Regions from separate parts of the Homo sapiens genome. Here region 1 is linked to region 2. The links come from fine-mapping of genetic effects on gene expression. A gene starts in region 2. The other region holds a variant in brackets. All regions are shown on one strand. Distances are from middle to middle.

The links.
Region 1: its variant is fine-mapped to the expression of CDK18 in cerebral cortex (GTEx, PIP 0.95).

The regions. Positions count from the first base shown.
Region 1 is chr1:205,523,887-205,537,907 of GRCh38, forward strand. It overlaps CDK18 (cyclin dependent kinase 18), which reads left to right. Exons shown (of 16, transcript NM_212502.3): 4 at 346-471; 5 at 1,253-1,309; 6 at 2,179-2,293; 7 at 2,481-2,575; 8 at 2,889-2,951; 9 at 3,908-4,031; 10 at 4,162-4,282; 11 at 5,113-5,210; 12 at 5,438-5,543; 13 at 5,635-5,677; 14 at 6,373-6,463; 15 at 6,742-6,819; 16 at 7,458-8,904. The coding sequence ends at 7,492. Among named protein-coding and RNA genes, the nearest start is that of CDK18, 26 kb to the left of the region's middle. RefSeq lists a silencer at 5,247-5,366 and an enhancer at 12,551-13,052. The variant G/C (reference allele first, on the strand shown) is at 4,750.
Region 2 is chr1:205,496,951-205,511,814 of GRCh38, forward strand. It overlaps CDK18 (cyclin dependent kinase 18), which reads left to right and starts at 7,719. Exons shown (of 16, transcript NM_212502.3): 1 at 7,719-7,846. RefSeq lists enhancers at 9,643-10,296, 13,153-13,700, 14,698-14,864.

The sequences.
Region 1 (14,021 bases), 27 kb after region 2:
GACTATTTGATCCACACACATATGCCCAAGTATATGAAAAAATATACTTACAGAATCGGTGCCTGTAAGGGCATGAGACTGATGTTGCACAGATGGTGATACTGTGGCCCAGAGAGGCAGAGAGTGACCTGGCTGTGCTAAGGTCACACAGCAGCCCCGGGTGTTCACGTGTATGTCTTGAGCACACACTGGGAGCAGCTGTGAGCCTGGGGTCACAGCCTGTGATTGGGCTCTGAATGGTTGTTCTGCAGGGAACGCTAGGTCCAGAGTGAAAGTCTGGAGCCCCACAGCCCTAGCTACCCTGAAACCAACAGTGGTGTCCCCATCTCATCCCTGTCACCACAGGACGTCAGCAAGAGGCTCTCTCTGCCCATGGATATCCGCCTGCCCCAGGAATTCCTACAGAAGCTACAGATGGAGAGCCCAGATCTGCCCAAGCCGCTCAGCCGCATGTCCCGCCGGGCCTCCCTGGTGAGTCCCAAGAGGGTCAGAGGACACAAGGTGGGGTGATATGCCCTCCCCAGCATGGGCATATCAGTCCCAGCTGAGGCCTAGATGGGATTTCGAGGAAGATTCCTGGGCCTCTGGTGCCACCTGCTGGCTTGAGTGCATTCAACTAGCTCGTCCTCCTACATCAACATCCATTTCCTAGATGGGTCTCACTTGGGCTGGAATGGGACTCTAAGCCCACAGTGGGTCCCACGGTCTCCACATGGTTAAGATCAATAGGCCAGCTGGCATGTGCCTTCCAGTCCTAACTGCCTATCAGAGCTGTTTGGGACATCTTACAAAACACAGACTCTACCTCCAGACACCTATAGAATCAGCCTCTCCGGCTAGGGGGTCCAGGAATCCGTCTTGTTAAGGGTTGGATACACCTGAGCTAGAAGTGCGCTGATGAGAGACACAGTCAGAGAGGTGGATTCTGAACTGGACACTCAAGGTACAATGGGAAAAAAGGCAGCACTCACTCTGGAGGAGCTCGTGGTCTCAGTCGGAGACACAGGTAGTCAAGATGTGCAACAATCCCAGGTGCCACAGCTCTGGGCTCTACACTCTTGGCTGTCCTGGGAGGAAGAAACTCACACTTTCACGAGCTCTGTCCTTTATCACAGGGATAAAGGGAAAAGGAGCCCCTTCCACCATGGAGTCTCATCCCTTCCCTCCCAGAGGCTGGAGTTGGGGGAGGCGTCATGTCTGTGGAGCTGCTAAGGGCTTCAAGCTCACGGCATTCTATGTCTCTCCCTCTCAGTCAGACATTGGCTTTGGGAAACTGGAAACATACGTGAAACTGGACAAACTGGGAGAGGTAAGACGCTGGGTTTGGTCTTCTCCGAATAGCCAGGCAGGATGGCTTGGAGGAGGGGCAGACCTCCCTAGTCGGCCCTCTCTGGTCGGCCCTCTCTGGTTGGCCCTCTCCTGGCCCCTGCCCCATAGAGGTGCACAGTCTTGGCTGTGCGCTCTGGCCCAGGCTTTGGCAGGGATTGAAGTGAGCTCAGATCCTGAAGGAGGGCGTGAGGATAGAGTAGCCATGGCCCTGGGCAGAATCCAGTCTTTTTTTTTTCTGCAAGTCCTTCTTGCCTGGGTTCAAAACCTAGCTCCACCATTTACTAGCTCTGTGACCTTTGGCAAGTTACATGACCTCTCTGTGTGCCTCAGTTTCTTCCTCTGTCCAATGAGACAGTAATTGTCCTATCACATAGGGTTATTGTGAGGATTGGGCAGGTTACTGTAATCAGCTTATGTACGGCACACAGACAATGCCTGGCACATAGGAAGTGCTGTGTCACTTAGCTATTTTTGTTGTCACTGTGCAGAGGCCTGGGGTGGGTGAAGGTTTATAGAGAGAGGGAACACACAGCCCTTTCCCTCCAGGAGCCCAAAGAGGTGACCTCTGTGTAAACATCAGCATCGTATAAGGAAGAAAAAACCTGGTGTTATCATAGACGGGCACGCGGCGTGCTGGGGCTTAGAGGAAGGACGGATTCACTCCGACTGGGGAGTCATTAGGGATGCTTCCTGGAGGAAGTAGGCTTTGGAGGAAACAGCATGTCAGTAAAGGGAGGAAGGGCACTCAGGCCCCAGTCGTAGCCCAGGCAGAGGCACAAATGGGGAGGCACTGGACAGAGGCCAGCAGCACCTGAATGCGCCTGGGGCCGCTGTGGCCCTCCATCCCAGGGCACCTATGCCACAGTCTTCAAAGGGCGCAGCAAACTGACGGAGAACCTTGTGGCCCTGAAAGAGATCCGGCTGGAGCACGAGGAGGGAGCGCCCTGCACTGCCATCCGAGAGGGTACAGCATCCTAGGCTCCCACGCTCCCCTGGGGGCTTCAGGAGGAGGGGTTCACCAGCCTGCACCCTTGTGGGAGCTGGGGGTAGAGGATCATTGCTGGAATGGGACTCCTGGCGCTGACCCCAAGAAAAGAGGGTATGGGGACACATGGGGTCCTAGGGACCCAGGTGGATCTGTCTCCTCACAGTGTCTCTGCTGAAGAACCTGAAGCACGCCAATATTGTGACCCTGCATGACCTCATCCACACAGATCGGTCCCTCACCCTGGTGTTTGAGTACCTGGTGAGAGTCCGGCTGGGGCTGGCCGCCTCTCCCTCTTGTGGTGGAAACGGGGTGTGGGTAGGGGAGTGGGAAGCTGAGGGAGTGGGAGTAGTGGGATGAGGGCGACCCAGGCCTTGTTCTGGAATCAGATTTTCAGATGCTCCCGTGCAGGAGTGGGCCAAGAGCTCAGGCTTACGGGTGGCTCGAGCCAGGGACCTGTCCCACTAGTGGGCGTGGGCCCTTCCCAGGGAGGGGCTTCCTCTCCTCAGCCTGTGTCTGGGCTTCTGGCCAGGGGTCAGCGTGGGGCAGGACTGAGCCACGCTCTGTGTTCCAGGACAGTGACCTGAAGCAGTATCTGGACCACTGTGGGAACCTCATGAGCATGCACAACGTCAAGGTGAGGCCTCGGGGGCAGGGTCCCCCCATCTTGGCAGCCACCTGTCCAGAAGCCCAGTGTGGGGACCCACTCTCACCACCAGGGATCCGGCTGCTGAGGTGGCTCAGACCTTCCCACGTAGGAAAGAGGGAGAGGGCAATGCCATCAACGAGTCCAGGAACTGGGTTGAGCGCTTTACCCCAAGAACAGACACACACTGTCTGCCACTGTCTAGCTGTTGGTATAAAACCCACTCTCAACTCTGAACATCAGTTTCCCAGTCTGTCAAATGGGAGTGTGAGCTACCTGCCAAAATGCAGGGAGGCTTCTGGGGAAGCTCGGGGTTATGAATGACCTCTCCTGGTGTTTGTTAAAGAATCAAGGCTGGGCATGGTGGCCCACGCCTGTAATCCCAGCACTGGGAGGCCAAGGCAGGAAGATGGCTTGAGCCCAGGAGTTTGAGACCAGCCTGGGCAACATGGCAAGACCTCATCTCTACTAAAAATTGAAAAATTAGCCGGGCACAGTAGCGTGCACCCATAGTCCCAGCTGCTTGAGAGGCTGAGGCAGGAGGGCCACTTGAGCCCGGGAGGTTGAGGCTGCAGTGAGCCATGATCACACCACTGCACTCCAGCCTGGGTGACAGAGTAAAACCCTGACTCTAAAAGAAAAAAAAAAAAAAAAGGGATCAAGCACATATGTCTCCACATAGGCGGGCATCCTGACCCCCGTGCTCCTGACTGAGACTTCGCTGGCCTCCCCCACACTCACTGCGTCCTCTGCACCCCTGCTGTCCTCCCCTCTGGATGGGATTCCCTGGTGTGGGTGGGGTCCAGGATGGGGGCTGCAGGGTGTGCAGGAGAATGAGGGGCTTGTGCTGACCTCACTGCCAAGCCCCTGCCCCCATCCTGGTCCCAGCCTTGGAGCAGAGGCTCAGGGCCACCTTCCACCCCACATTTCTCTTCCCCCTCCCCCAGATTTTCATGTTCCAGCTGCTCCGGGGCCTCGCCTACTGTCACCACCGCAAGATCCTGCACCGGGACCTGAAGCCCCAGAACCTGCTCATCAACGAGAGGGGGGAGCTGAAGCTGGCCGACTTTGGTGAGGCTGGGGCTAGGGTGGGGGTCTGACGCTACTGGGGTGCCTCAGGGTGTGGGTGCAGTGGGGGAGGGCATAGCAGTCAACCCCACAGCACCTGTGGACAGAGGTCCAGTGACATGTCTGCCCCCAGGACTGGCCAGGGCCAAGTCAGTGCCCACAAAGACTTACTCCAATGAGGTGGTGACCCTGTGGTACAGGCCCCCCGATGTGCTGCTGGGATCCACAGAGTACTCCACCCCCATTGATATGTGGTGAGTGAGCACTGTGGGGACCGAGGAGGGGAGGACAGGCCTGGCCACACCTCCAGACTCTCCTTTGCTTCCCCAAGGGCCTCGGGGAAGAACTGCCTAACTTCCTTTGCCTAAAAGCCTTGTGACATCCTGCTGAAATGGATGTTAAAAAATTAGGTCTGAAATATAATAGGTTAGGGTTTCCCTGGCTTAAATAGACCCCCAAGCCTGTGCATTTGAAATCCTCCCCCAGAGGCCTGTGGGGGGTTACCAGAGACCCAGAGGGTCCAGGAGGGCCCCTATAGTAAATACGATGAATCTTCCCCAAGCATCAGTCCCAGTGAAAATTTTGAAAGAGAAGTACTATTTTTATGTTAAAATGAACAAGTGTATGATTTGGTGTAAAATGAAAAATCAGCCCAAATTGCAAGCCAAGCCGCCGGTGGTTATGAATGGCTGCTGTGACTCCGCCCCAAGGTTCCCCAGGA[G/C]AATGGATTTATGTACTTCTCTTCCAGTGGGGCACACAGTGGAGAGAGTTTGAGACAACACTGCTGAGAGAATTGCCACATGGGCGCTGGCTGCACAGACCCAAACCTCACAGAGTGAAAGGGGACTTTCCTCACAGAGTGAAAGTCGCAGCTTTCCCGAGCCCAGGGAAGCCCCCCAGAGAGGGGCTGTAGTGGGGGCTGGGCAGTTCTAGGAGCCTCCACTGCCCTGGGCCACCCCTCCGCCGCCAGAGCCACGATCCCTGCAGCCGCCTGTGGCAGGTCGTCATTGGTGCCCTGGTGGAGCAGCCCTAGGAAGGGCGGCCGCCCCTGCCTGATGCCGACCCTACCCCTTGCTCCTCGCAGGGGCGTGGGCTGCATCCACTACGAGATGGCCACAGGGAGGCCCCTCTTCCCGGGCTCCACAGTCAAGGAGGAGCTGCACCTCATCTTTCGCCTCCTCGGTCAGTCTCCCGCTGCTCCGTCCCTCTCACCACCAGGGGGCGCCGGAACTCCTCCAGCCCAGGCGCGGAGCGGGACGGGGAGGAGCGGCTCGGCCGCCTCTCTCCCGGGCGGGGACCCCCTGTGGCCTCGGCCATCTTTGCTCCCACCTCATACATTGCATCCCTTTCAAGTCGGCCTTGGCCCTGGGCCTCACGCAGGCCCTCCCCACCCTCTCTCGTCTCCCCAGGGACCCCCACAGAAGAGACGTGGCCCGGCGTGACCGCCTTCTCTGAGTTCCGCACCTACAGCTTCCCCTGCTACCTCCCGCAGCCGCTCATCAACCACGCGCCCAGGTAGCCCCTGCGCCCGCCGCCCCTCCTGCTGCGGCCCTGGCTCTCCCATCCCCAATCAGGCACAGCCTGTGTCCGCGCCTTCTCCTTGCAGGTTGGATACGGATGGCATCCACCTCCTGAGCAGCCTGCTCCTGGTGAGTGTCCTCCCGGCGGGGCCCAGGGAGAGGCAGCCAAAGAGCCAGGTCCCTGTGCCCCATGCCGGGCCTACGCCCCAACTTCTGTGGCTCGTGTGCTTACACGTCTTTGAAACATCTCCCCTGTACTCTCCACCCCCAAGGCCAAGGGGTGGCCTCCATACACATCCTCTGGAGTCTGTGCACTGCGAGCCCAAACCCGTTACTTAGCTGTGTAGCTCTGGGCAAGTTACAGAGCTCCTCCATGCCTCAGTTTCCTCAGCTGCAAAGTGGGATTAATACCTATTTTATAAGATGGCCGTGAGGATACATTGAGATGACGGGACACACTTAGTGTGGTGCCTGTCTTGTAAGGCACACGATGAAGGGTTGTTATCGGCACTACGCTTCCTGTTACGGATGTTCTCCATCTGATCATGGTTGGTTTGCATCTGTATTTCTATCCCAAGAGAAGGTCACTCTCCTGAAGTTTCATTTCTGGTTTTTCCTGGTGGCTGGAGACCGAGGAGCCTTCCCCTGAGTCTTGAGATGGCCTGAGGTTGGGTTTGTGGTAGGGGCTGGAGGCTGACCTGGGGCTTCTCCTGTTAGCCTCAAGCCTCACCCACCTTGGTGCTCTAACCAGCACTGGAGTCCTGCTGCCCAGAGGGTTTGCAGCCCCCCAGCCGGGCCCAATAGCCCCACCCTGTGCCTTTCAGTATGAATCCAAGAGTCGCATGTCAGCAGAGGCTGCCCTGAGTCACTCCTACTTCCGGTCTCTGGGAGAGCGTGTGCACCAGCTTGAAGACAGTGAGTACTGGGGGTCCGGGAGCAGGGCCACCCAGAACCAAGGAAAGGGGTTGGTGAGTGTGGGCAGAAGAACCAGAACAAAGAGGCCAGAGGCCCCAGCCCCAGCAGAGCAGCCCCGGGCACCTTGCCTCCCCTGCTGGGGTTCTCATTCCAAATTGAGGGGGCAAACAGTGGAAATGAGACGCTGCCTCGAGGGCTCAGTTGGTCCTTCTGGGCCAGTCCTTACTGGAGGCCAGCTCCACGCAGCCCTCTCCAGACTATGCACTTCTCTCCCCCAGCTGCCTCCATCTTCTCCCTGAAGGAGATCCAGCTCCAGAAGGACCCAGGCTACCGAGGCTTGGCCTTCCAGCAGCCAGGTAGGGGCTTGTGCTCTCCTGGACCCCTCCCCTTGTTAGTGGAAGCCAGAGCAGGCGACCCCTCCCCAGTGGGGACTCCCATGGTCCCCCCACCACTGGCTTCCCTTTGGACTCTTTGGGGAGCAGAGAAGGGGTTGGTTTCTCCTGCCTAGACTTCCTCGTCCAGCTCTTCCCTCCTCAACCCTCCACCCCAGACAGGACATTGCATTTGACAGTAGCCCTGGCAAAGAGGCATGCTGTCTCTGGTGCATTCTCTCTGCAAACCCTGAGCTCTCTAATCAGATTCCATCCTGGGAGAACGGTACTTTGTTCCTAGAACAGTCAATGGCCTTGGACATTGACAAATGCTTTCCATGCATCGTCTTCTTTAATCCTTAAAATACCCCTTGAAGCTAGTACTATTAATATTCCCCATTTCATAGTCAATGAAACTGAGGCTCTGGGAGGTTAAGTCACAAGTTCATGCAGCTAGTAAGTAGCAGAGATGGGATTTGACACCAGGTCAGACCGGCTCCTGTTTGCATGCCCTTGCTTGCTCTGTCAGAGCAGCTCTGGGGGACAGCGACTGTCCCTGCTGACCTGGGGTACCCGTCAGCCCAGCCTCCTCCCTGCAGCCCCACCTCTTCTCCATTCTCCAGGACGAGGGAAGAACAGGCGGCAGAGCATCTTCTGAGCCACGCCCACCTTGCTGTGGCCAAGGGACAAGAGATCACATGGAGCACAAATTCGGGTAGGATGGAGCCTGTGTGGCCCTCGGAGGACTGAAGAACGAGGGCTGACAGCCAGCCTGGAAGACCGCTTGGCAGCCCTTCTGGCCACGGCTGTTTCTTCTTTGTGCTTCCCGTGTGCCTCCCCAGTAGCCCTCACCTGCATACCAACCCCTCCTTTACCCACGTTGGGGCTGGCATAAGCTGCTTCCCTGAGAGGACATGAGGGGGGGGCGGTCCTCGTACCCTCTCCCACCCTGGTGTTTGGGCACCTGCGTGGGATGCACACGGATGACAGAATCAAGGCGCCAGGATGGGCACTCTGCCCTGGATACAGGCTCTACCCTCCTCCCCCAGGACCTGCCTAGTGCCAGTTTGGTAGTCCCCCTTTCTGGCCCCTTGGAGCCCACACACGTTTCATCTTTTTCCCCTCTGAGAGCAAGAAGAGACATGGCATGTTCTCTGGGACCCTGGAATCCTAGGTACCCACATGTGTGCCAAAGCCTACCCCACCTGGCAGGTGTCCCACAGCAACAGAAGGAATAGTAGTCCCCACTCTTTCCATCAGCCCTACCCTACCCTCATTCCCCGACACCCTCTGGCTTGAACCATGGCTGAGCAGTGCCGGCATACGCTTTGCTGGCATGCTTGGATGCCCAGCTGTGTCCAGAGGTGGCCTGGGACCGCCAGTTGCACGCCTGCCACCTCAGCCAGCCCCCGCCCAGCTCATCAGTCTGAATGGAGTTGCCTTAAATTGGCAGGTGGTACCGTACTCACTGCCCTTGGAGCTGTGACCGGCTCCTGCCTGTCCACCCCTTCCCGAGGTGGCTCCTGCTTACCTTATCATCCCAGGGCTCTGATTAGCCAGGCCTGGTCAGGGTCCTGGGGACGGCACCCAGATATGCAGAGTCACCCTGACACTGGTGCCAGGCTGACCTCAGCTCCCGAAGGCTCGCACAGCCTCCCCATCCTTCCTTCCCAGCCCTTGTGGCTCTGTCCACCTGATCCCAATACCAGCTTCCCCCAGCCCCTGCCACCCCAGAGGGCGGCCACGACAGGGAGAGGTGTAGATGCCACCATCTGAGGGAGAGGAACGTGGAACAGGAGCAGGCTCTGATGCTGAGAGGCTTGCCTCCGGGGGCTGGAAGCCTGGGTGGCCGGGGCCCCTGAAGAAGGCTCCCCTCTGTATCCCCCAGGTCTCCTCAACACTGGGCTGATCCTGAATGGCACAGGCCAAGGGGAGGCCAGCCTCGCCTTTCTACCCAGGCCCCCTGCCCTGCCCACCTCAGGCCCCCACCCTCCACTCCTCCCCACGGTACTGTGAACGTCGTGTGACTCAGTGCAGAGACAGATAATATATTTAATTCATGTACAGAAAGGAGCGAGCAGTCTCGTACAGAAAAGCTGACTTTGATAGATTGATGCCAAAGATGGAGAACTGAAGTCCCCCCTCCAGGCCTAATGAGTGTGGGTGGGGTGTGCTTGTGTGTATGTGTGTGTGTGTGTGTGTGTGTGTGTGTGTGTGTATATATATATATATATATATATATATATAGTGAGGAGAGAGTTTGATTTGTGTGTATCTCTGACCTCCCCTACACCCCAGGCTGTGGGACGAGTGCCTAGCATTCACCTTGCTGTATCCTGGGTGCTGCTGCGTTCAGAGCCAGAAGTTGGCTCTTGCTGAGGAGCATCAGTGGTTGTTGTGGGTGGGCAGAGGAGTCCCAGGCCTGGGAGTCTGACCTGTGGCCTGGCATTGGCCCAAGTTGGTGCCTGTGGGGTGGGGCTGGCCAGGAGAGCAAAGAGGGACCCCTGGGCGGGGGTCTGGGGTCTGGCCGTGCAGCTAATCCCTGTGTTCCTGATGCCAAATGGCCCCCTGGCTTCTGGGGAGGGAGGTAGGCAAGATCAAGATGAGGTTGACATGGGAGATGGCCAAGGCCAGGGCAGCAGGACGAGGGTGTGGGCCTCACTGTAATTCAGGCTCTGCAAGAATTGCTGCAGACCTCGAATACACCTCCTGCTGCTGCCTAGACCGCCTCCCCACCTTTGATCTGGACACAACCCACCCCCGCAACACATCATACACAGCTCCCAAAGTGCTCAGAGTCCTGCTGTTGTCCAGTTCGGTGTCCAGGTTTGTTCTTCCCGAGACCACTCTGAGAATGCCAGGCCCGAAACCCTGCCTCCTGACCTGTCCTCATGCCTGGCCTTAAGCACTTTGCAGTTTGCCGGCATGGTTTGCAGTTACTTAAGAGGGTGGCTGCTTTCCAGAGGAGGAAGCTGATGCTGAGGTTGATGATGTCTCCCAAGGCTCTGGAAGTAAGGGGCGGGCCAGGGCTCCATTCTCAGCTCAGCACCAGTTCTACCGAAGGAGACCTCCTCACTTTGCTTGTAGGCAGCCAGACACCAAAGTAGGGTCGTAACTCAGACAATTAGTGCTTGAGGGGAGGAGAAGGGCTGGGAAATGCATTGGTGGGAATTGGAAACCAGACATTTATTAAGTTCCCTGCTGGGTGCCAGGCAGCCCTGTGCCCAGGCATTGTCTCACTGAATCCTCATAGAAACCCCCCTTTCTCCCCACTTTGCAGATGAGGACAGGAGCCTCCCAGGGGTAGCCTGGGGTCACATACCAAATTAGAATCCCAGGTGTCTGCCCCCCAGCCCTGTGGTCTTTAAGGAGTGGGAGGCGTGGGGAGGGTGAGGTGGAGATAGTGCAGAGGCCCTGGAGGGAGGAAAACACACAAGGAAGGATATGGGCAGATGCTGCCTTGAGGAGCACTTTGCAAGGCAACTCTTGTGGCAGGCAGAGGTGGCCCAGAGTCGCTGGGGGCAGCCGTTCTTGCTGCTGCAGCTGTGGCCCTGCTGAGGAGGCACACACCTAGGGGCTTCTGACATCAGGCATGCTGAGCTTCTGCCCTAGAAAGCTGCCAGGGCTGGGAGTGCCGGCCAGCCTGGGGGTGTGGAACTCAGCTGGACAGGCCTACACCAGGCCTTGGATATGATTGGTGCTCAAAAAGTGATGGCTCCGGAGAAGGAAGCTGGGTTCGGGTGTGAAGAGGGGCTGAGTGATTTTGGCCATGAGCTGCCACTGGGCTCCCAGGGACCAGGCTGAGCTACAACCCAACCCAGTGTCCTGGAGCCCTCGGTTTCCTGGGCACCCCTGCAATCATTTCCTTATGCCGGTGACTCTCAAAAACAGGAGCCTGCCCCATTCTGCTGGAATCCCCGGCCCAAAGCAGCCTTTTACAAGTCATTCCCCCTCAGGCCTCACTTGTCACCTGCCTGCTTCTGGGACAGGTCAGGAATATCCAGGGTGCAGATGCCGTCCCCTCCACCATGGCCACTTGGCAGGGGCATTTGAGGCATGTAGCAGCCCTGCAGCTTCAGACAAAATGTCCTATTTGCTGAACTCTACAGGGTGGGGGTGATATCAGCTCCTGTGCTTGGCACTGCCCACATCATCTTGCACCCCGGTGGGACCTGGAGCTCGCTCTCCCCTGCCCCACCCTCCTGTGGGCTCCCATTCACCCTGCCCCTACTCTCTGGGTCCAGTGGTCAGGGCTGATGTCTAATAGGCCACCACTCCTCTACCCTGCTAGGCCCCCTGGGTCAGCCAAGTGTCAGACACTGTTGCAGGCCTGCTCCTTTCCTCCCTTCTTGAAGCATCCCAGCCTCCTTTGGGCCATCTCCCCACCTCTATCACTGCTCAGACCCTTGCTTTTGGCCGTGACACTCTACAGCACCCCAGTGAGCCCCTCTATCTCCAGAGCAAATCATCAGCACCATGAATTAGCCACAGCCTCCTCCATGCCTGGCCCTGTGCTAGATGCCAGGGACACCAAGATGCATGACATTCCACCCCTACCTTCCAGAAGCTCAGACCTGCCGGCAGAGATGGCCTTGATTACAACAGGTTTTCTCAAGAACCCACTGTGCACCCGGTGCTGTGCTAGGCACTGAGGATACAGCCGTGAACAAGATGGCCAAGCCCTACTCTCATAGAGCTTATGTTCCAGTGGGGGGTATAAGACGTTATCCAAACCAACAGGCATATCAAGGGGTCATAAGTGTGATGAGACAAAATAAGGCAGGGGCAGGTTTGAGGGGGAAGAATGTGATGGCATAGGGAGGGGAACTGCCTGGTCAGGGAGGGACCTCTCCATCAAAAATGAGCTATGGGCTGGGCGTGGTGGCTCACACCTGTAATTCTGGCACTTTGGGATGCCAAGGCAGGCAGATCGCTTGAGCCCAAGGGTTTGAGATCAGCCTGGGCAACATAGCGAGACCCCGTCTCTATTTAAAAAAAAATTAGCTGGGTGTGACGGCTCATGCCTGTAGTCTCAGCTACTCAGGAGGCTGAGGTAGGAGGATCACTTGAACCCAGGTCGAGCCGCAGTGAGCAGTGATCATGCCACTACCATCCAGCCTGGGCAATGGAGTGAGACCCTGTACCAAAAAAAAAAAAAAAAAAAAAAAAAGTGAGCTATGTTGTGTAAGGGGGCCAGGTGGACAGCCAGGGACAGAGTATTCCAACAAAGGCCCTGAGGTGAACGTACTTGAGAATGAGTGAGAGGCAGTGAGGCCAGGGCACAGTGAGCCAGGCAGCATGGCAGGAGGGATGTATCATGTGGGGCAGTGGCTCTGCCCATTAGATCCACCTGGGAAGTGCTTAAGATCCACTGCCATCCGGCCCCAGCTCAGATTGATTCAGATGACCCTAACATGTATCCAGGGTTGAGAACCGCTCACTCGTGCGGGGTCTTGCGGGCTGTGGTACGGGTTCTGGATTTTATTCTGAGATGGGAAGCCACTGGCCTCTGTTTTTAAAGGCTCAGAGGGTCAAATAGGAGATGTCAGCCCCTATAAGGAGGGTGATGGGGCAGGGAGAGGAAGGATCCCCCAGGTGGTGGTAGAGCAGCAGCAGGTGTGGTGGGAAGGGAGAAGGGAAGCACCTGCTCTCCTGTGTTGCTGCGAGAGGGACTGTCATCCTAATCCCAGGGAGGGCCACAGAGGCTCTAGGGTTAGGTGACCTGCATGGCCACACAGGGAGTAAGGTGGACTGTCAATTACAACCCAGGTCAGCCTACCTGAGCAGCTGCCTCCGGGCAGGTGTGGGCACTGGCACGGACACTCCACCTCACTTGTTTGCATGGAGGATGGGCATCTGGTTTCCAGGGACTGGGAAATCCTTGCCTTCTGGTCACCTAAAAGCATTGTCTGACAGGCAGCCAGTTGACACCTGGGGGTTGGGCAAAAGTCACTATCCCCCACCCCACCAAGTGCCCCCTGAGTGATGACTCAGCCCCTCTTCCGGACCCTCAGAACCTCCCACCATCTGCCAACTAAAAGCATCATTGGGCACCAGGGCCCTGCTCCCGCCCTAGCTGTGGAGGCCCGGTGGCTGGCATCATTGCTGATGGTCAGTGCCCAGACTCCAGGGAGTGTGTGCCAATTCTCCTAGACAGGACGGGTGGGGCCAAGGGCAGCTCTGATGAGATTGCAGGTGCCACGTGGCCACTCCCGCTTCCTCCCTTGTTTTCTCCTCTTCCTTCTTCCTGCTTCTTTTTACTTCTCTCAGTGCCCCTTGGGGGCACTAGGTATTACTCAGTGGGCGGCCCTGAGTAATACTGAAACCCAGAGATCAATAATTTGACCCAGCCTCTTGTCTAAGGAAGGAGATTTTGCAGCCTCTCCCTTGAATCAACCCAAGCCTCCAGTCCCTGAGATGTGTTCTCAATGCCAAGCATCAACCCTTGCTCCTGCATCCCTGGGCCCTTCCTGGTGATGTGACGCAAACATGGAGAGCTGAAGCATGGACAGGGCGTGGCAGGGAGGATCCCCGCTGCCCTCCTGCATGTGGTCAGCACTCCTGCTTGCCCCTTTCTGGGCTAGAAACTTCTAGCCCAGTTCCTCATCTTCCTGTCTCCTCCAGAGCTCCTCCCTCCCTAATTTACTCATTATCCATCAGATGGTTCCAGACTCTGTGCCAGGCTCTGTTTTCAGTACCCAGGATACAAACTTGACCCTGACTTAGACCCCACTCCCAGGAGCTCAGCATCTCAGAGGCGGCTAGGATAATCTTTTCTTCCTCTCAGCTTCTTAAGGTCTCAGCTACTTGGGGGAAAGACAGTTGTCCATTAGTCATTCTATTAAAATTTCCTAAGGTTTTTTTTTTTTTCAAGAACAATAAAATGTTTTAATGTCCTCATGTTTTCCCTGGAGGAGAGATTGGCTAAGTCCTAGGTTCCTGGGAAGAAGGAATCTTGAACAACCAGGGAAATAACACACAGGCTCCAAAATCACAGACTTGGATTCAAATCCCAGCTCTACGGCTTGCAAGCTGTGTCACCTTGGGAATGTTCCTTAACTGCTCTGTGCCTCAGTTTCCCTCTCTGTAAAACGGAGATAGTGATAACACCTATTTCACAAGGTTGTGAGGATTTAAGAATGAATATTCAGGCCGGGCGCAGTGTCTCATGCCTGTAATCCCAGCCC
Region 2 (14,864 bases):
GAGAGGGAAAGAAGGGAGGCAGTGAGGATGGGCATGATCCCTGCCTTCAAGAAGTTCAGAGGTCTGGCGGCAAGGTGCTCATGCCTGTAATCCTAGCACTTTGGGAGGCCAAGGCAGGTGGATCACCTGAGGTCAGAAGTTCAAGACCAGCTTGGGCAACATGGTGAAACCCCATCTCTACTAAAAATACAAAAATTAGCTGGGTGTGGTGGTGGGTGCCTATAATCCCAGCTACTTGGGAGGCCAAGACACAAGAATTGCTTGAACCCAGGAGACAGAGGTTGCAGCGAGCTGAGATCACGCCACTGCACTCCAGCCTGAGCAACAGAGCAAGACAAAAGTTCAGAATCGAATTAGTCAGACAATCTATTAATATGCAAAGACAAATGAGACTTGTAAATAAGTTCAAAAGAAGAGAAGAGCCATCCCCAGTCCAAGCAGGATCCATTGTGCCAACTGGATAAAACCCCTGAATACTTACTGCAGGAAGTCAGACAACGGAGAACCGCTGGTCCAGTGGGGATTGGGGTGGTGCGGGACTAGTTGGGCAACCCAGGTGGTGGGCTTGGAGCCTTTCAAGAAGAATTCATTAAGGGTGTACACAGTGTTCCTGACGGCAGCTGTGTTTGCTTTCTCTCCAGGGAGGGGGTTGGCAGTGGGCAGGAGGGAAGGGCCAGGAGACCGGCACGGTCCTTAGCTCCTGCCTCCTTTCAGCTCAGCCAAACAGCTCAGCAGCCACCAATTCTCCCAGTCTCCCTCTCCCGCCTTCCATTCATCCCTCAGCCCACCATTCAGGCCTCTGCCCTACTCCCATCTCCAGAATTGCCCTTGTTAAAGTCACCAATCTAGGGCTACCAACCATCTCTGTCTGCCCAGGACTTTCAATGCTAGAACTGGGAGAATCCCAGGCAAACTGGGCCTATGGCCACCCTACCAATGGCTTCCTAGTTGCCAAATTCAATGATGTCTTTCAGTCTTGCTCTGTGGGCACCTCCTGACTCCCCTTTCCTTTCCAACACCTCTCTTCCCCTTGCTCCTGTCCTAACTTCTGGTCTGCTTGTTCTCTTCTTCCTTCATCAGCTTTGCTTCCTCTGCCAATTCAGTTCTGCTGTGTCGGTTCTGTAGACCAGTGGCGCCTAACCTTTTTGGCGCCAGGGACCAGTTTCATGGAAAACGGTTTTTTTCACCGACCAGGCAGGGAGATGGTTTCAGGATGATTAAAGCGCATTACATTTAGTGTGCACTCTATTTCTATTATTATTACCTTGTAATATACAATGAAATAATTATACAACTCACCATCATGTAGAATCAATGGGAGCCCTGAGCTTGTTTTCCCGTAACTAGATGGTCCCATCTGGGGGTGATGGGAGACAGTGACAGATCATCAGGCATTAGATTCTCATAAGGAGCATGCAACGTAGATCCCTCACATGTGCAGTTCACAACAGGCTTCGTGCTCCTATGAGAATCTAATGCTGCCACTGATATGATAGAAGGCAGAGCTCAGGTGGGAATGTGAGTGACTGGGAGCGGCTGTAAATACAGATGAAGCTTTGCTTGCTTGCCTGCTGCTCACCTCCTGCTGTGTGGCCCAGTTCCTAACAGGCAGCCAGGAGTTGGGGACCCCTGTCCTAGACCCCGGTGAGCACCTGATATATACTAGTCCTGGGCATACAAAGGCTAAAGATGTAGTCTCTGGCCACGGGAAGCTCTCAGCCCAGTAAAGGAGGAAGACATGGAGCCCCCAAGCACTGGGAGGCACACAGTGAGAGAAGTATGTCGAACAGACAGGCTTCCGACTGGGGAGTGGTCAAGCCTGTGTAGACAACACTGAACCTGTGTGTGTCAAGGAGGCAGTGACTCTTGAGCTGGATTTTGAAGAATGAATAGGAGTTTACTAGGTAAGTGGTGAAGGAGGGAACCTCTCCTATAGATGGGAACATGTGCCAAGGCATGAAGCAGTGAAACATAGTGGTGTGTACAAGAGAAGTACTCATAGTTTGATGTGGCTGGACACAACAAGAGAGGGAGAAAATCAGGATGAGCTGACGAGGGAGGCAGGGGATCCATATGCCATAAGGGAGTCTGTGAATGAGCACAAGGAGGCCCATAGCTCATGAAAATGAACAGAAAATGTTGTGCATATGTGTTTTGATTCCTCAGATTTCATCAGATTCTGAAAGAGGGGTTGGGGACTCAAAGGCCTCCTGTTGGGGAGCTACTGGAAGCAACTGGGCAGAGGAGGAGCCACTGGCAGATTGGCCAGTGGCTAAGGTTAAGGCCTCTCTGGCATCTGTCTGAAGGAGGGGTGTGGGGCCTGGAAGCTAAAGGCCAGTGGGCCAGTGGGGCCTGCGGGTTCAAACCATGGCCTTCTTCCTTGGCCCTGAGCAAGGTCTTTCCCGGTCAGCCACCTCCAGAGCACTTGTCTCCAGGCCCATCCAACAGGCCTCTGGAGCATTTCTAAAAGTCTTCACCAAGATGTTCAACTGGCTCCTCAAGGGCTACCTGGCTACAGCTGAAATCAGCACCTGTGCTTGGCCCATGGCAGATATTGAGTAACTACTTTCAAACTGAACTAAGATCCAACTGTCCAATGAACTCATGAGCTGGGTTTTAGGGTTTGGTTTTAGGTCTTCCTGGGGATCAATCAACTCTCTTGGTCCAAAAGTCTCAAAATTCTTAAGGTTTCCTGAAAAGAAAATCTACGGTTCCTATCCCTATCTATTAGTTGAGAAATAATTTCATTACATTTCACTATAATCCAAGTAGGAGTCTTTGACCCCATTCTCTAGGTGAGCAAACAGAGACCCAGGGGTAAAGAATGGGCTTAGAAAGCCCAGGTAAACCAGCTGTCTCTCCTCTCCCACCCTGCATACGGGTCCTCTCAGTGGCCCACCCCAGCCAGTGTGGCCTGCAGCCTCACCCCAAAGACTCTTCTAGTCTTGTTCCTAAGGACCACTTTCCCATTTACACCAGCTTTGTGTGGTGATTCTGTTGTCATGGCAATGCATCAACCTGAAGGGGGTGGGGTGTGTGTGTGTGTGTGTGTGTGTGTAAGTTTGGAAGGCACCGCTGGATGTAGTGGTGGGGTTCTAATTGGTTTGATAGTTGCTAGGGTCAACTGGTCTGTGATTGGCTGACTCTATTTATGGGTCCACCCTGTCCTAGAACCCTCTGGGGATGCAGCTGTTGCCTCATCTGAAGTCTAGAATGGTGTGTGTGTGTGCGTGCATGTGCATGCACATGTGTAAACACATGCATAAATGCACACATGCCTGTACTTTCACCACAAATAGCGAAGGGAGGATATGACACTTGGTGAAGTGATAAAGCAGAAAGTCCCAGGCTCTCTGCTGGAATCACACTGCTACAGGTAAATGATATTTTTCTCCTAATCATCCCCACTTCTCATAAATCACTGGAAAACAATGGCCTAGGTTTAGCCAGAGGAGGAGTAAGAATTGGCTCAGTCTAGCCAAGTCCTGCTGTCCCAATGACTCACAGACCTCTAACTAGCTAGGCCATAATGGGTCAGTCCATCTTCAGGTCTCTGCTGCCAATCTCCCTCCTGCCTGCCAAGGGCAGGCTGTTGAGGTGAGTTTCTCTGTTCTCACTTAGCTTCTCATTTCTCATGTCTTTACTTGATTCCTGGAACCCTAAAAAGGGCCCTCTGGACAAACACTAATGATCTCATACACATGCAGGTCGTTCTACAGTGTGCAAAGCACTTTCACAGTCACCTTTGCATTTAGTTCTCCCATCCTGAAAGATAGGTATTCACACTATTCCCCTTTTGCTATAGAGGAAAACAGAGGCCCAGAGAAACAAAGTGATTTCTGCACCTTAGGGGCGGAGTCAAGTCTCCGGCCTCCCAAATGTCCCTGCAGTGCTTTCAGAGACTGTGCCTGCTCGGATATAGGGCCAGAGGGGAAGGGAGCCCCTGACAATGTGCAGAAAAGAGATTCTCTGTTGGCTGAACTCTCCCTGTCTGGATGCTGTGCCTCCCAGGGGAAAGTGGGGCGGGCTTGAACTTTGGTTTTTCAGATGCTATTCAAATGCACTGCCCACACAGTCTGCGAGGGAGAGCTGTTTCCAGCTTCCCTGCTCAGCCCTCAGGCACCCAGGGACGCCTGTCCTATCTGCAGAGCAGTGGCATGTCACTGGCAGCGAGGAGGAGACAGGAGCAGAGTGGGCAGTGGGCTGAGCTGCTGCTGGGGCCACCATTGTCATGCTGCTCAGGCCTGCCAGCATTACACTGCTACATGGCTAGGGTGACCAGGGCCTCCCGGGGATGCCACAGATCCATTAGACTAGCAGAGGGGAAGGGGGCTGCAGGACCCACAGGGGATGGGCCCCAGGGGCTGGGGTGCCAGGGAAACCCCCAGCTGAGGGTCTGTTGTCTGTCCCTCTGCAAGGAGGGAGTTAATGGGCTGCAGAAAAGAGAAACAGCATTGATTGGGTGCCAAGTTTACATCCTATTGAAACCTCACAACAGCCCCATGAGAGAGGGACTATTACCATCTCCATGTTATGGACAGGAAAGGAAGTCAGATATGTCAGTAACTGCCCAAGGTCACACAGTTTACATGGCTTTAAAGCTCAAAGTATTGCTTGGTAAGGCAGCAGGGAAGGAGCCCCTCCTTAGTGGAAGTCCTAGGTAGTGCTGCTTCTACTGTGTTTGGCTTATTGCAAGATGCACAGAAAGAAAGTTGGCATCGGAGGGCAGGGGACACCAAGGGGTTCAGAGGGAATTTTTGAAATGGTACAGATGAGAAGCAGAAAAATTAGGCTGACCCAAAGAGCACACATACACAGGCCACTGATGTGTATGACTGGGTATCATGGACTCCCTATCCAGCTAGTAAGCCCTGCCCAGGGTCACTCTTATCTGGTTCCCCCCTCCCACCTCCCATCTGCACTTGCCCTTTCCTGGGGTGGCCAAAGCTTGTTGTGCCATTCTCTGGGCTCCATATAGATGCCCACCTGCAGTTCATCCTCTTCCTTCAACCCTGAGAACCAAGACGATGCTTCAAAACTGAAGCTTTCAGAGATTCTGAAGCAATCCCATGTGGTGGTGGTGGGGCAGGGGGTGATGTGACAGGCTCTGAGCAGGTGGCTGGCCCTACATCATTTCAGCTGTCATCTCTCCTCTGTGGAGCTGTCCCAAATTCTCTTGGGCAGAGTTAAGGGCTTCTTCCTCTGCTCAGCCCATATTGCCTTGGTAGGTGACTGCCTCTGCATATCTTTCTCCACCTGAACAGTGAACTACATGAGAATAGGAACTGAGACTTAAAATCATCTATCCAATGCAAGGATCCAGTATAGTCCTTGTCACATAGCAGGTGTTCAATAAATGTTTGTTGAATGCATGAATGATGGTAATTATATTTACTATCTATTGAGTTCTCCATTATGAGCCAAGTCCTATGCCAGGCCCTTAGCATACATTACCCTAATATGTACAACAACCATACAAGATTGATTTTAGCAACTTTGTTCTACAGATGGCCTCAGAAAGCTTAGTTCGCTTGCCCAAGTTCACAGAGCAATCTAAGGAGGTGCTGGGAATCAAGGCTCACTTAAGAAGCTCCAAGGTCCCACTCAGCCTATCACATCAGTGCTTCTAATCTTGACACTGTTGGCTCCCTTATCTTCTAGAATCCAATAGTCACAAGGCTCCATGACCCTGTCTCCTACCTATCTCTCAAATCAGTTCCCTCCTCTCCTCCCTGCTGCCGCTGTGTGGTCTAAGCTCATTCTCATTTTCCACTAGGATCAGCCTCCACGTTGGGGGTCTTCAGGACCCAGCACCTGCCTGCCTCTACAGTGTCACCTCCACCCCAGACTTTAAGTTCTGACCTCATGGAACTGTGGGTCCATATTCTGTCACCCCTGCACTCTGCACAAGGGATTACCCCTCCTGGAAAAAACAGGGAAAATCCTTCCTCCTCTCTCTTGTCCCCTCATCCTGTAACCCTCACCTCAAGCAGAATAGCTCCTCCCAGGCATCCGTAACACTAAGCCTCCTCCTATAGCATCCTAACTGTTTGCTTCCCTGCCGCATTACACCAAGAGCTTCTTGAAGGCAGGGACTGGGTTATACTCATCTTATGTGCCCAGAGCCCTGGCTATCATTTGGCACATAAGAGATGTTGAGAAAGTGTTTGTGGAGACCTCTTGACTTCACCCCCCTAGTTCCTTGAAATTCTACCCTTTGGCCCCACTCTCTCTAATCCGCCAGTAAACAGTTCCTTGGCCATAGTCCTTCTCCCTTTCCCTCCCTGCCCCTTCCAAACCTCTTTATGGCCTCCTGCTCCCCAGGCTTCTCACCATCCACTGGACTACAGAGCCAGGAGGTTGCTGCACACCTAAAGGCTCTGGATCCATGCACCCCGACAACACTTGGCAGTTTCATTTTTAGGAAGTGCTGTGCCCAGGAAATCTGCATGCCTTGGCAGAGAAAGCGAGGTAAAAAAAAAAAAAAGAGTTGGGAGGCCCTCTGTGAGATGTCAACTACCCACAGGTCACTTTCATGCATGGGCCCAGTGTCTTCCTTCATTCTCCTGTCTCCAGCTGACAGTGGGACCTCAGGCCCATGTCTTCCAGAAGGAAACTGTTCTATTCTCAACAACTCACAGTCCCCAGGGAAAGGGTTCAGGTAGAAGCACATGTACACTGTGGAGCACCCCCTCCTAAGGAGACTTTCCCTGTGGGAGACCCCAGACTGCAGCAGCCAAGCCCTCTGGTAGGGCAGGGGACACAGACTGCCTTGATGAGGTGCCATAGAGCCAAGGCACACCTCCTCTCCTCACAGCCCTCAGGAGGAAGCAGAGATGAGAGGGGCCTGGCGGTGGGGCACTGTGCCCTTCACCCCCATCCCCAGATTTTTGTTTTGTTTTTTTTTTTGATCCTTGAAGTCAGATGATGTGGGTGCAATGGCCATTGGCCTGAGTTCTAATCATGGCTCGCCATGAACTCTTGTGGCACTTTAGGCCAGTTCAATTGCTTTGCTGGGCCTCAGTTTCCCCTTCTGTAAAATGAGAGTGCCACTAGCTGAACTAGCCATTCTGTAACCCTTCTTGGATGATTCTCAAATATCCTGTGGAGTTTAATTCCAAAAGGACAAGTTGAATTATCCTTCGGGGAGGGAAATGTGAATGATGGCTGGTAACAAGGGCTTCATTCAGGTCCTGGAGAGGTGGGAACTTTGTCCGGAAAGGTAAGTGACAAGTCCCACTGGATAGGGTAGAAGGGGAGCCCGAGGGCTACTATTGTCAAGAAAATGACCACCAAAATCTGTCCATGCACATTCGTTCCTAGGGCGCCAGGTACAGGGAGGTACCTAGGAGAGGTAGGAGCACCGCTTTTAGAGACAGGCAGGCACTCTCAGTGTACCCCTGGCGCCTTGGTGTCCTGGGGTGATCCAGTCCAGAAGGCCTCATCCCCTAGCCAAGGCTCTCAGGGCCGGTTTTAGAAACGAAACAGGAAGAGGCACTTGGACCCTGGTTCCCAGAGTGGGAGAAAGGGGTGGGCACCCGGGCAGAGGGAGCCCTGGGGATTGGTAGCGGCTGTGGGCAGGGCGGGAGGGCCGGGGGCGGAGTCAACTTGTACATGTGAAAAACTCTGGCGGGGGCCGGGCATTTTCCTTCCTCCTCCTCCTCCTCCTCCTCCTCCCTCCTCTTCCCCACCTTCCTCCACTCCCTCCCTTCCCCTCCCCTTCTACCTCCTCCTCGGCCAGCTCAGGTTGCAGCTTCTCTGGGGAACTGCTCACCTTTCCGGAGCAGGGGAAGCTGCCCCGTGCCCGGGAGGGAGCGGGCGCACCGCGGCCCCCAGGACACGCGCTGTGAGTCCCGCGGGCGGTGCGCCTGGGAGGAAGGGGGAGGTCGGAGGAGCGGGCACCGCGGCGCCGGGTATAAGGAGCAAAGGTAAGCGGAACGGCTCTTAAAGGCGCAGTTTTGCTTTTGCCCTGAGGCGAGAGGTTGGAGGGAAATACCGGAGCGGCGAGGGGAGAGCAGAGATCACGAGGCGTGATCTGTGTGATACTGTGTTGTGTGTTGAGGGGTGGGGGGTGCCCTCGAAAGGCCACTCGTAAGTTCCAGGTGCTTGAGAGGGAGGGTTATTTTGCAATCTCAGACCCCGCGCCCCCTTAGGGAGTCTCCATCTGGGATCACTTTGGCCCCTGGGCTCCCGTCTGAACCCTACAAAGCAAAGTTTTCCACCCAGTCCGGAACCAGGCGCTTTCTAAGCTCCCTTCATTCTGGGAAGGGCAAGGGTCAGGAGTCTCCAGGGACCAAAGGACCCGAGAGTGTGGGGCCACATCGCTGCCTTGAAGGGCTTCCTGGGCTCTGGTGAACTTTCCAGAGCGGCAGGCAGGGGGTGGGAGGCCGGAGCCCTGGGAAGAACGTGGAAGGACACGTGAAGCCCTGCAGGTCCCAGTTCTGGGGGAGGCAGGGGTCTGGGGAATGCTGCTGCTTCTCTCTTTCCACCCCGGAAGACCAAAGGGGCAGTGCCCCCCTCCACCCCTCATCAACAGGCGACAGAGGGTTAATGCAGCAGAGGGAAAGGAGGCTGGGTGGGGCCGGGGGGAGTGGGCGGTGACCTGTTGGGCTAAGGAGATGTGCCTTGAGGATTCTGCTGTAGTTGAGGGACACCATCAGGAATCTGAAATCCAAAATCGGGTCTGGACTGGAGGCCTCTGTTTTCGCCCTGTGGGGGGCGGGGATTCCCTGAAGGTGTCTGCAGACCTTGTGCTGGGTGGGAGTTGGGCTGCAGAAACAGTGAGGGGTTTTCTGTGCTGCAGGGTCAGCACCCTCCTAGGCACCAGCCCTGCCTCTCTTCATTCTCTCTGGGCACCTCCCGGCAGTCGGGGTGGGAGGATTGACACTGTGGGAGTGAGAGGCCCTGGAACCTCTTCCGCGCTATCTGCTACTGTCTCCCCTTCTTCCCCACCCCTAGCCCAGCCCTCGGCAGTTCCCCAGCTGTAGCCTGGGCCCTGTGACTCACTAACACCACCGGCTTGCCCCTCCTGTGTCAGCACCCAGTGAGCTTCGGCATGTTCGCGTGGCATTCCCCACCCGGGCATGGGCATGCAGCACATTCCTGGACACGGGCCTGAGAGGATGCCTGGAGCGCCTGGTGGACTGGCACGTCCTCAGAGATCCCCTGCCTTTAGCCTGGCCTTGGGAGGGGCCTGGGAAAACGGTGCTGAGGGTGCTGAGGGTCGGTGGAGTACAGGGCGACACTGGCTCCAGGTCCGGGTTTGCATCCTGAAGGCGTTCCAGAGAGAGGGTCACCTTGCCACAGCAAAGCTGCTATCTCGGGTTACCCTTTCCCAGCCACCTCTTGTGCAGCTGAGGAGGCTGTGGGGCTGACCCCTCCCCCACCCTTAATCTGGGGTGTACCTGACCATTGGGTTCCCAGGACTCTCCCCACTGGGTCCCCAGGACTCTCCCCATACCCTGCCAGGAGAATGGAAGAAGCTCTCCACGCGTGCCAGAAGAAGTTCTTCCCAAACTTATCGGGGGTGCCAGAGGCAGAGTAGACAAGCCTTAGTGGCCACCATTTGTTGAATATCTACTGTGCGCCAAGCAGTGCGTCACAACTTTATGAAGTAGGTATTATTATCATCCCCATTTTACAGGTGAAGAAACTGAGTCTCTGAGAGACCAACTTTTCCAAGGTCACACAGAGGTGGGATCCAGCCCACTTCCGTCTGACCCCAAGCCCCTGCTGTTAACCCCTGCCCCATTGTGGGGAGGTTCCGGCCCACTCTGGAGTTCTCTGGTCTGCGTCAGTCCTCAGGAGAAGAAAGAATGGGGGTGATGCTCCAAATATTGAGGCTCCCATCTGTCTGTCCTGCACTAGGCAGAGCCAGGCTTCTCCATGGGGCACAGGAGAGAGGGCACCAGATCTGAGGAGCAAATAGGTTCTTGGTCTGAGATCTCGTGGGATCAGGTTGCCAGCCCTGCAAACCCCCGCTCAGGTCTAGAGGACATGGAGCTGCCTTTCAGGGTGCATTTGCTTCCTCTACAGACTCGGACTCTGTCCTCTGCCTACTTGGGCCGTCCCGCACTCGGGAATGCGTCCTACACTGTAGGGCAGAGCCCGGCTTGACTCTTCCCGGTTCCTACCCTAACCAAGCCTCTACTTTCTGGGATCACCCTGTTGGGACTTTTGTCCAGCATCTCCATCTACCTGTCCTCTGATTCCTTCTGTTCTTCTCTAACTGAGCTTGAGAACTAAAGGGGAGGGCAAACTTCTGGCCTTGGTGGAATCCAGCTCCAGCATATAGTAGCTATGTGACCTTCCCCTCACTAGCACACTCGTGAATTTCTCCCAGCATCCGTTCCCTCATCTGTAAAATGAGGATCATAATAGAGGGCTGTTATAAGATTTAGGCTGGGTGCGGTGGCTCACGCCTGTAATCCCAGCACTTTGGGAGGCCGAGGTGGACGGATCACGAGGTCAGGAGATCGAGACCATCCTGGCTAACATGGTGAAACCCCATCTCTACTGAAAAAAAAAAAAAAGCACAAAATTAGTCAGGCGTGGTGGCAGGTGCCTGTAGCTACTCGGGAGGCTGAGGCAGGAGAATGGCGTGAACCCGGGAGGCGGAGGTTGTAGTGAGCCGAGATTGCACCGCTGTACTCCAGCCTGGGCGACAGAGCGAGACTCCGTCTCAAAAAAAAAAAAAAAAAAAAAAAAAAAAAATAATGCACAGTGCCTGGCATGTAGCAGAGACTAAATAACTGGTAGCTATAGTGGTTGGTGGTGCTTGTTTGGAAAGGGAATTTCCTGGTGATTGCACCAGGGCTGGTCTAGAGACCAAGGTAGATTTTCCCAGCCCCATCAGGCCAAGCCCTTAGTTAGACAGAATCTTTACTGCTCTTCCAGGTTAGGGAGGAGGGCTCTGTGTAAGAGAATGGTGGTGGTGGTAGGGGAATGGGTTGGATGGAAATCTTCCAGGAGGGGCCAGGAATCTGTGCTGTGGGGGCCCTACCTTCTGGCAGTTATGAATGAGGCAGGCACTGGGAGCTGGAGAGGCAGCAGTCTCTTGCTCTGAGGGCCCTCTGGCAGCGCCTTCTTTCCCTGAGGTAGGAGGACCCTCCCCTGGTACTTAATTAATTGCAGTCCCTGTTCTGCTCTGTTGTTCAGGGTGAGTGGCTGGCCTGGTTCCAGGCCCACCTGATTAGCCCACCTTTGGCAATAAGTCACATTTCTCTTCCTCGGCTCTGTGTCCCACCATAACCCCTTACGTCCCCTTCCCTGGACTTTTCACCTTTGCCCTCCAGGCATTCCCTGCTGAGTGGGCACTTTCCCACATCCAGGGGGTGGGAGCAGACCAAGGTTAATCTTGTCCTGGCTCCCACAGCTGCTTACACACACACAGCTGCATGCACATGCACACACAGGCTGGGCTCACAACAGCTCAGGCCAAGGGTCTGGGATCCAGGATCACTACAGAGCTGGTAGCTGGGCCTGGCTGGAGCTGGCCAGTGGTTCAGCAGCAAGTCTGGAAGAGGAAAAGCCGTGGGCGCATCTCCGCCAGACCTCCTGTCTGAAAGAGAGCCCATCTGCTCCTAGAATCTCCACAGCTACATCTGCAGAGGAGGAGGGGTAGTGAGGCAAGTGTGAGGTTTGGTTTTAAACTGAAAAGGGAGGTGGGCGGATTGCTTGAGCCCAGGAGGTCGAAACCAGACTGGGCAACATGGCAAGACCCCATCTCTAAAAAAATACAAAAATTAGCCAGGTGTGGTGGCACGCGCCTGTAGTCCCAGCTACTCGGGAGGCTGAGAGGGGAGGATCGCTTGAGCCTAGGAGGTTGAGGCTGCAGTGATCCATGATTGCATCACTGCACTCCAGCCTGGGCAACAGAACAAGAACTTGTCAAAAAAAAAATTGAAAAGGGTCTTAGGCCGGGTGTGGTGGCTCATGCCTGTAATCCCAGCACTTTGGAAGGCCAAGGCGGGTGGATCACTTGAGGCCAGGAGTTTGAGACCAGCCTGGCCAACATGATGAAACCCTGTTTCTCCTAAAAATACAAAAATTAGCTAGGCATGGTGGCGTGTGCCTGTAATCCCAGCTACTCGGGAGGCTGAGGTAGGAGGATCGCTTGAACCCAGGAGGTGGAGGTTGCAGTGAGCCGAGGTCGCACCACTGCACTCCAGCCTGGGCGAGAAACAAAACAAAACAAAACAAAAAACGGGTCTTGAAGCAAAGCTCCCTGACAGCATGAGTAACCCTGAAGAGACTGGACACCTTGCTCTGGGAGACATGGGCCAGAACTTTTGAAAGGACTATGATGAGATCCTCTTTCCTGGAGCTCTTGATAATGGTCCCACCCTCTGAGCCTCCCTACCCCCACCATTAAATAAAAGTCTTCCCTAGAAATGGTGGAGTCGGGATAGACAAGATGACCCAATAATGGCTGGCTGGTGCACTCATCATTATTTATATGTTGAGTGTATGTCTCCTGTCCACCATGGGTGGAGGCAATTTATGGACTTTGGGGTCAGTTCAGATTCTGCCTCTTCCACTCAGTAACTGGTTGCCTTAGGTTAAGTAATTTGCTCACCCAGGTTTCAGTTTCCTCATTTATAAAATAGGAGGATAATACTATTATCTCATGTGATTGCGAGGACTCCAGTGAGATAATGTCCACCTAGTAGCTCTTTGCTTTACCTGATGTCATTATCAAGGGGTGGTGGCAGAGTTAATGGGCTACATTTGGTAGTTCTCAGTGCCTTTGGCCCCACTTGATATTTTTTTCTGAAATCAGGGTCCCTGCAAACATCAGGGATCAGCCCCCAAATTGGGAAGAGAACTCTATTCTTAAAATGTTTCTGGCCAGGCACAGAGGCTCACACCTGTAATCCCAGAACTTTGGGAGGCCGAGGTAGGTGGATCACCTGAGGTCAGGAGTTCAAGACCAGCCTGGCCAACATGGCGAAACCCCATCTCTACTAAAAATACAAAAATTAGCCAGGCATGGTGGCAGGCACCTGTAATCCCAGCTACTCCAGAGGCTGAGGCACGAGAATCGCTTGAACAAGGGAGGCAGAGGTTGCAGTGAGCCAGGATTGTACCACTGCACTCCAGACTGGGTGACAGAGCAAGACTTTGTCTCAAAAAAAAAAAAAAAATTTCTACCCTCCCTCACTCTGAACACTGTTCCCCATCTTATCATTATCGAGGGAAATTCAGAGCTCCAGAATGATTACTGCCCTCACACCTTGCTTCCCTAAAGAAGCCTGCCCTTTTCTGCCTGGGGAGTCTCCTCAGGAACCAGACCTTCTTCTCTTCTCTGGCCCCAGCCACCCAGCACCCTGGGCTGCGGGGTGACCAGCCCAGGAGGTGACAGGGCTGTCCTTCCCACATCCTGGCAGGACCCACTGCCTGGAAGCAGGTGGGCGGTAGGTGTTATGCTAGAGGGCATCACTCTTGACAAAGCAGCACTGGCTCCCAAACTCTGCCTGCAACATGGGATGAGCCCAGGAAAGGGGTCACAGAGCCCCTCCCTGATCCTGCCGTGGAGCCCAGCTGGCAGCATCCCCTGCCGTGGCTGGGCTGGGTGCCATGTTCTGTGTGGGTGCCAAACCTGGCATGGCTCCTTCCCAAGGAAGGTGGCCCTTGGGGATGCTGTGACTTTCTTGGCTGTGGTGACCAATAAAGGGAGTGCCATCTCTACGCAGGCCCATGCAGTCCCTTCCAACCCTGCACAAAGTCAGAAGCCCAAAGTGTGGTCCCAGCTCTGCCCTGTCACCCTCAGTGGCCTCGGGCAGATCGCTCACCTTTCTGAGTCTTGCCTTCTTTGCCTGAAACATGAGGGTGCAGACCAGGGGATTTCCAAAGGCCCCTCTGAGGCTGCTGGTCTGAGGCTCCGACTTTTGCCTGTCCTGCTAACAAGGTGAGCTGTGTGCTGGGGTCCCAAGAGGGGCTCAGCCTCCTGTTCCTCCAAACTGTAGAGCCAGGGGCTTGCCCCAGCTGATGGCTGGGTACCTGGTCCCTGCCATGCTGAGATGGGCAAGGAAATCCTGGAATGCCTCAGCCCTGTCAATTAGGAGGAGAACAACTACCTCGCAAAGAAATGGATGCTGGATTCAAACACTACACAGGCACTGGATGCTCAAGGCTAGGGGTTGGCAAACCATGGCTCTTGGCCAAGTCCCGACAGTTTTTGTATGGCCCATGAGCTAAGAATGATTTTTACATTTTTAAGCAGTCGGTAAAAAGTCAAAAGAAGAAAATAAAGTTTTGTGACCCTTAAACATTTTATAAAATTCAAATGTTAGTGTTCATAGTAAAGTTTTACTGGTGTGAGGCCAAACTCATTCATTTACATCTTGCCTGTGGGTGCTTTTGTGCTGCAAAGGCAGAGTGGCAGAGTGGCGACAGAGACGATGGCCCGCAAAGCCTAAAATAGTGGCTGTCTGGCCTCTTACAGAAAAGGTTTGCTGACCCCTGCTCAAGATAATCATAGTTCTCTCCAGGCCTTGCACTAAACTGCTCCAGGATCTCAATCTAAAAGTACTTTCTTTTCATTTAAAAAGAAGTGTTGCTATTTTCTTCTTATGTAAGCAATAAATGTTCATTATGGAAATATTAGAAGATGCAGATAAGCAAAAAGAAGACATTAAAATCACCCATAATTCTATCACCCAGGAATAACTACTGCTGGTGTTTTGACTTACCACCTTCTGGGTTATCTAACAGTGTGCTGTGTTTATATGTGCATGCCTGTGACACATGTGTATATCCTGCATACGTACAGCTTTTACAAACTGTACACATCTGTCCTCTTCACTTAAAAACACATCTTGGCCAGGTGCGGTGGCTCACACCTATAATCCTAGCACTTTGGG